Homo sapiens: one gene and its partner. The protein of the gene in region 1 purifies or fractionates together with the protein of each later gene. This does not show direct contact. Each region holds a gene or a part of one and is shown on either strand. Other genes may lie near its edges. The genes, in order: LBP and CFHR1.

What was found.
Region 2: the proteins of LBP (region 1) and CFHR1 purify together in Homo sapiens (affinity purification with western blotting, with the first as the bait; one study listed by BioGRID). This does not show direct contact.

Annotation. Positions count from the first base shown.
Region 1 is NC_000020.11:38,366,688-38,370,517, forward strand, and holds part of LBP (lipopolysaccharide-binding protein precursor), read left to right. Parts: intron 1-81; coding exon 82-141; intron 142-2,307; coding exon 2,308-2,475; intron 2,476-3,830. UniProt on the Homo sapiens protein: Plays a role in the innate immune response. Binds to the lipid A moiety of bacterial lipopolysaccharides (LPS), a glycolipid present in the outer membrane of all Gram-negative bacteria.
Region 2 is NC_000001.11:196,822,523-196,826,352, reverse strand, and holds part of CFHR1 (complement factor H-related protein 1 isoform 1 precursor), read right to left. Parts: intron 877-3,830; coding exon 682-876; intron 1-681. UniProt on the Homo sapiens protein: Involved in complement regulation. The dimerized forms have avidity for tissue-bound complement fragments and efficiently compete with the physiological complement inhibitor CFH. Can associate with lipoproteins and may play a role in lipid metabolism.

The DNA of each region.
Region 1 (3,830 bases):
TCCCCCTGTCTCCCCAATCTTCTTTAGACCTTCAGCTCCAGCGGGAGCACCCTAAAACTTCTTCATGTCTCTTTGCTGCAGATACCGCCTGACTCTAATATCCGACTGACCACCAAGTCCTTCCGACCCTTCGTCCCACGGGTAAGGAGTCCCTTAGTTCCCCATGAGTGCAGACCGAGCCTACTAGACTCCAGAGGTTTCTCTTTAAAACCTCTGCATCTCTCAGCTTGACCAAGAGTGAGAAGGCCGGGATGAGACTCCCACTGAAGGCTGGGGTGCTGCTCCTTTCAAAGCCTAAATAACAGAGGCCACGCCCCATATCTTGTGGGACCACAGCTTGTCCAATCTTTTATTGGTGTTATCTAAGAATCCCAAGGAATGCTGGCATAGTCCATAAAATGTACCCTAATGAACAGCAGCTAACAATTACAGGGGGCTTCCTAGGTGCCAGGCATGTTCTTGGTTCTTTAAAAAATTATTTTTTGGCCAGGCATGGTGGCTCATGCCTGTAATCCCAGCATTGTGGGTGGCCAAGGTGGGTGGATTGCTTGAGTCCAGGAGTTCAAGACCAGCCTGGGCAACATGACGAAACCCCATCTCTACAAAAAATACAAAAATTAGCCAAGCGTAGCGGCACATAGCTGTAGTCCCAGCCACTGGGGAGGCTGAGGTGGGAAGATCACCTGAGGCTGCGAGGTTGAGGCTGCAGTGAGCTGTGATTGCACCACTGCACTCCAGCCTGGGCAACAGAGTGAGACCCTGTCTCAAAAAAAATTATTAAAAATGTTAGTTTTTGAATGGGAAATAAATTCTCAAGGTTCAACATTCAAAAGATCTAGAAGGTTATAGAGTGGAAAGTCTCACATCCACTCCTATTCCCTAACCACCCAGTTCCCATCTCAAGTTTGCCAATATTACCAGATTTTACATATCTTTCTGATGATATTCTATGTATATACAGGTTCACTATCTCTTATCTGAAATGCTTGGAAAAGCAACTCTGCCTACCTTCTTAGTGAAGCATTTTACCCCCTCAGCCTTCCAAATGTCTCCCTTCTAGAAGAGGATGTAGGTTTTACATATACATAACCAAAAGGTTCATGGGAGTGCTGTTTTTCCACGAATAGCCTCCTAAAAAGGAAGAGTCTTGCCCCAAATTAAACTCTGTACCTATCTCTAGTACACAGAAAATTAAGAGCACTTTTGAAATGGTGGAATCTAGGGCTGGTCGTGGTGGCTCACACCTATAATCCTAGCACTCTGGGAGGCCAAAGTGGGGGGGTAGCTTGAGGCCAGGAGTTCAAGACCAACCTGGACAACATAGCAAAACCCTGTCTCTATTTTAGAAAGAAAAGTTAAAAAAGAAAGAAAGAAAGAAAGAAATGTTCTGTGGAATATCATATTAAAAGAGTAATACGAGAAAATTAAATATTTTTTTTAAAAAAGAAATGGTGGGATCCAGCTGTGTCATATTTCGAAAACACTGGCATCTGACCTCAGCATGCCCAATTAGCAGAATGTGATGAGGGGATGGAGAAACCTTGGGAGAGGTAGGGAGGGAGAAAAAATGGGCCCAACTTTTCTGGAGGACAATTTGGCAATACCTGCCGAAAGTTTTAAAAGCATTGCTGGCCAGGTGCGGTGGCTCACACCCGTAATCCCAGCACTTTGGGAGGCTGAGGCGGGCAGATCACCTGAGGTCAGGAGTTCAAGACCAGCCTGGCCAACATGGTGAAACCCCATCTCTACTAAAAATACAAAATTAGCCGGGTGTGGTGGTGCACACCTGTAATCCCAGCTACTTGGGAGGCTGCAGAAGGAGAATCGCTTGAACCCCAGAGGCAGAGGTTGCAGTGAGCTGAGATGGCACCATTGCACTCCAGCCTGGGTGACAAGAGCAAAACTCCATCTCAAAAAACAAAACAAAAAAAGAAAGCATTGCTGTCCTTCAACCCAGCAACTCCACCTCTAGGAATGTTTTCCTGAAAAGAATAGCCAAGGGTGCTCACAGGAGGTGGTCATTATAATGGCAAAACCCTGGAGACAACTTGATGCCCAATAGAGTTTAATCCATCGCAGGACCCATACATAACGAAATACAACACAGCCGTGAAATAGATGGTGCAGACTCTGTGTCTGACATGGAGAGATGGCCAGTTTTGCCACTAGGAGAAAAAGGCACAGAGAATTTTGTTGGAAATAAAATCAATCGAAAGCAACTTCCAGCTTTATCTGACTCCCTCAGGCCTCTCCTGGCAGACTTGTATATTTTCTTCTCTTGATGTAATCTCCTAATTCTGCTCCCAGTTAGCCAGGCTCTACCCCAACATGAACCTGGAACTCCAGGGATCAGTGCCCTCTGCTCCGCTCCTGAACTTCAGCCCTGGGAATCTGTCTGTGGACCCCTATATGGAGATAGATGCCTTTGTGCTCCTGCCCAGCTCCAGCAAGGAGCCTGTCTTCCGGCTCAGTGTGGTAAGGTTCAGAGCCTTTGCAAATGCTGTTTCCTTTTCCCCACATGCTTTTCCCTTTTCCCCACATGCTTTTCTCCCCACTCACCACCTGGGTAATTCCTCCAGGTCTCAACTTAAATATTACTTCCCGAGAGAGGGCTTTCTTGCTGGCCCTTACCCCCAATCTACCTTACGCCCCTTGCCACTTTTTCTTGTAACACCCCATTATCTTTCTTCTCAGCGTTTACTACAAAGATACTTTGTAGCTGTCTGCAGGTGTATTTGTTTAATGCATGTATCTCTCACTATGTGAGTCTGGGCTATTGTGGGGAGAAAGGTATACTGGTGTTTGTCTATTTGTCTATTTTGACCTTGGAAGACTACATTTCCCAAGCTTCTTTGCACTTTGATTTCCACCCAGGTCAACCAATGGGAGGTACTGTCAGGAGAATGATGGCGGGGAGGAAGGATGAAGCCAGAGTACTATTTCCTCTTTCTTTACCACGGCAGAGGCTCTGGCTGTGACTATGTCTCCTCATGGTGACTTCCATAATTCCACCTCCACTCTTTGTTCCTCTAGTCCTGGGGTGGATACAGCCTCCTGTCTCTGGATAATCTCTGGGTGGCCTCACCAACTCTTTACTAGCTTCTCAACAATTCCATCACTTGTATAACCAATTCCCCGTATTAAATTCCCTCTGCGTTAAACATTGAGAGTCAGTTTTCCTTTTTTGATGGACTCTGTCTAATAGGGAAGGGATGTTGGGTCCTTTGGGGGCCTTGCTCCCTGGATGGAGAACTCTGCTCTCTTGTTTCTTGACTTTTGAAATCAACAAGTCAAATCTCTACCAGGGTAATTCTTCCTAGAGGCTATATCTGCAATTTAATATTGTTGTTATTGTTATCAAAAGTGTCATTATTAATATATTTTAAATTAAAATATAATTTACTGTCTGGGTGTGGTGGCTCACATCTGTAATCTCAGCACTTTGGGAGGTCAAGGCAGGAGAATCACACAAGGCCAGGAGTTTGAGAGCAGCCTGGGCAACACAGCAAGACTCCATTGCTACAAAAAAGAAAAAACAAATAGCCAGGCCTGGTGGCATGCACCTGTAGTCCTATCTACTCAGGGGGTTGATGTGGGAGGATCGCTTGAGCCCAGGAGATTGAGGCTGCAGTGAGCCATGATTGCACCACTGCACTCCAGCTGGGCGACAGACAGAGACTCCATCTCTAAAACAATAATAATAATTTATTAATGTTGTTACTAGGGCTGAATCTTGACCTGAGATAACTAGAAATGATCCTTTTTAGAGCTTTCCAAGGGTAGGTACTCTATACCTTCTCTTAGTAGTCTGTTCAAAGTTTAACTGCTAA
Region 2 (3,830 bases), on another chromosome or scaffold:
AATATTTCATTTTCTTGCTCTATGGTTTTTATAATGAAATATTTTATGTTTGTCAACCTTTTAGGGACAAAAGAACCTCTTCATATATCTATTTCTCTCTTAACTCTCATAAATGTTTCTTAGGAGAAAGATCATTGCTATCTCCTTTGTTGCCTCATGTATCTGTCTCCCAATTTTTTTTTCTTTTAATACACCTGTTATCATTGGAGTCTGCTCTCTACATTTATTGGAGAATTAATATAGCTACACTGTGAAGGACCAAAGAAATTATTTATTGAAATATAAAAGTGAAAATGCTAAACCTCCTTTCAATATGCTAAAGAATGGTAAATTCAAAACAGAATATGTATAAAAATGACATTTAAAAGGAAAACTTTGATCAGGCTGCTGCGAAATGAATATTAGTAAAGAAATATTAGCAGTCAAATATATTAAAGATCAGTTTAAAAAAATTAATATATTTCAACACGTAGAGCATTTCCAGGTAACACAAGACAGTTGACATATTTATTCTTCATTGATTCTTATAGGAGGCATCTCAAAATAGGGGGACTACATCTCCCATCTTTCCAGCTTCTTTGGTCACTGTCCCTGTGATTATCAAGACCTTATGATCTTGTCTGGCATATCCTTCTCTATTCACTGAATGACATCCATTTAATGAACAGAGCATTTACTCACTGAGACACTTTGGTGTTGGTGACCATCCTTCTTCTGTGCATGTTATGCGAGTCCAAAATGATTTTGAAGGAGACACAAAATTATATTCACAGGAGTAATAGAAAACTTCCCCTGTAGGAACCTGGGAAAATGGCTTATATTTTTCTTCATCATATAGAATTCCATGGTTTATTTTTGGAAAATCACAAAATGTTGCTGGGAAAATAACATAAAACTGAAGAATTACATAATAAGTTACATAAATAAATCACTAGATTATATTTTAATCATCTCACTTATAGTGTTTTTCTTTCATTTAGCTTAAATGCCTTTAGCTTAAATGCTTTCCAGTGTACAAATTAGGAATGAAAAGCATCACTAACTAGGAGTACATGACTATTTGAGGAGGTAATTGTTAATGAATATAAAATTTATATTTTGGAGTGATATGAAATATGAACTCTCCTGCATTGTCTTCAAGAATAAAACCCACACACAACAATTTAAGAATGAAGACAGAGTGTAAGAGTAGCAAATCTTCCTGATCTACATAGTATACAGTAGAAAAGTGATAGGGTTGTTCTTAGCTCTCAATTTACTTATTTTCTCTATTCTCATTGACTGCCATAGGTGTCTCTGCCAGAAACTCTGTCCTATTTTTTTTTCTGGTGCAGTAAAGATGTTGGATATGTAGTTTTGTTTTTTGTTTATTAATATCATTTTGAATATTTTCTGGTTACAAAGTTAATATAGTTTCAGTGGAAATAATTTAGGGAATATAAGAAAATCACTAAGAACAACTCAATCAAGATAAAGTTAGAGCTAAATTCTGGTTAATGTTGTATATACAAATATGTATTTGTATATTTGTATTTATATATTTATACTTGTGAACACACACACACACGCACATATATATATATATATATATATATATATATATACAGTCAGCCCCACTCGTTTCACTTCGTCTGATTCAACCAACTGCAGATCAAAAATATTTGAAAAAAACAATAAAGATAATAAAACAATAAAAATAATGCAATTAAAGATACAATATAACAACTATTTTTACAGCATTTACATTGTATTAGGTATTATAAATACTCTAGAGATTCCTTAAATTGTATGAGAGGGCTGAGTGTGGTAGCTCATGCCTGTAATCCCAGCACTTTGGGAGGCTGAGGTGAGTGGGTCACTTGAGGTCAGGAATTTGAGACCAGCCTGGCCAACATGGTGAAACCCCATCTCTACTAAAAATACAAAAATTAGCCAGGTGTGGTGGTGCACGCCTGTGATCCCAGCTACCTGGGAGGCTGAGGCAGAAGAATCACTTGAACCCAGGAGGGGGAGGTTGCAGTGAGCGGAGATCATGCCACTAAACTCGAGCCTGGGGGCGACAGAGCAAGACTCCACCTCAAAAAAAATTAAAATAAAATAAAATAAATTGTATGGGAGGATATGCACAGGTTATGTACAAATACTACACCATTCTCTCTTAGACACTTGAGTATCCTTGGATTTTGGTATCTGCTGGGGGTGGGTAGCGTCCTGGAACCAATTCCTTGAGGATGCTAAAGGACTACTGTATATATGTATAAATACATCCATACACACTATGGTGCAAGATATATTAAAACAATGTAGAAAATGGGTGAAATCTTCATACTTTTTACTCTTTTTTTGTGTACACATACATATATATACACACATATTTTTTATTAGACTTTATACTTTATTTACAGGTTTTTCACAGCAAGATTGAGTGGAAGGTAGAGATTTCCTATATACCACTTCCTCTTCCCTACCACATGCATAAGCTCCCTCACTGTCAATATAATTACCACCCAAAGTTCATAGTTTATGTTGGGGTTCACTCTTGATGTTGTACGTTCTATGGGTTTGATATGCTTTATCTTTGAGTACGTATTTAGCTCAAGATATTTCCTCAATATAATACTGCTCTTTGTTTTTATGTCAAGATATTTTTGCAATATAGTACTGCTGCATAAGAAATAATTTTATTTTTCACCTTATTTGAAAGATGTGTGCAGAAATTAAGCTGACAAATCAAGAGAAATTTCTCTTTTTCATCTATCTAGAAGTAATGTTTAATGTTGCACAATATTTGAAATATTTTCACCTTGTGAAACCTGAAATTGATTATCTAACTGTTTAAAATTTGACATTAGATAGTTTTGGTAAAGGTGTTGAGGGAAAGACTCCCGTCTTGATAGTATTAACCTACCATAACTCTTTCAATTATCCTTCACTCCTCCAAAATTATAGTAGTTTATTTTCATACATTTGTACCTACATATTCTTTGCTATCCAGAATAACTTGGTTTTCATCAACCATTTATATTGTACCTATGCTTCAGAAAGAATTCTATGACATTCATCAAGTATTCATTGTGCATATCTGCAATGGTGCTAGCTAGGAGTGTTAATGTCTTCTTGCAAGCCTCCTTTACACAACCACCAATTTCAAAAGTAGAAAATAATTTTTATTGTCTCAATATTTTGATAGAATATTGTGAATACATTTCTTCTGGGATACACACACACACACACACACACACACACACACATATATATATATATATATACAGTCGTACAGTTATTCACCACATAATGACATTTTGGTCAATGACTGATCACTTATATGACAGTGGACCCATAAGATTATAGTGTAGCTGAAAAATTCCTATCACCTAATAGCCATCGTAACATTGCAGTGCAATATATTACTCACATATTTGTGGCAATGCCGGGGGTAAACAAACCTACAGCATTGCCAGTCACATAAAAATATGCCACACACAATTTTGTACAGTACGTAATACTTGATGATGATAATATAGAAGTGTTACTGGTTAATGTATTTCATATAGTATAATTGTTATTAGTATTTTATAGTTAACTTCTTCTATTGATTAAAAAAATTAACTGTAAAACAGTTAATGTTTCCTGAGGCAGGTCCTTCAGGAACTATTCTAGAAGAAACCTTTGTTATCATAGGAGAGGACAGCTCCATGCCTGTTACTGCCGTGAAGACCTTCCAGTGGGACAAGAGCGGGGGAAGAAGACAGTGATACTGATGATCCTGACTCTTTGTAGGCCGAGGTTAATGTGTGTGTTTGTGTCTGTTTTTAACAAAAAGGTTTAAA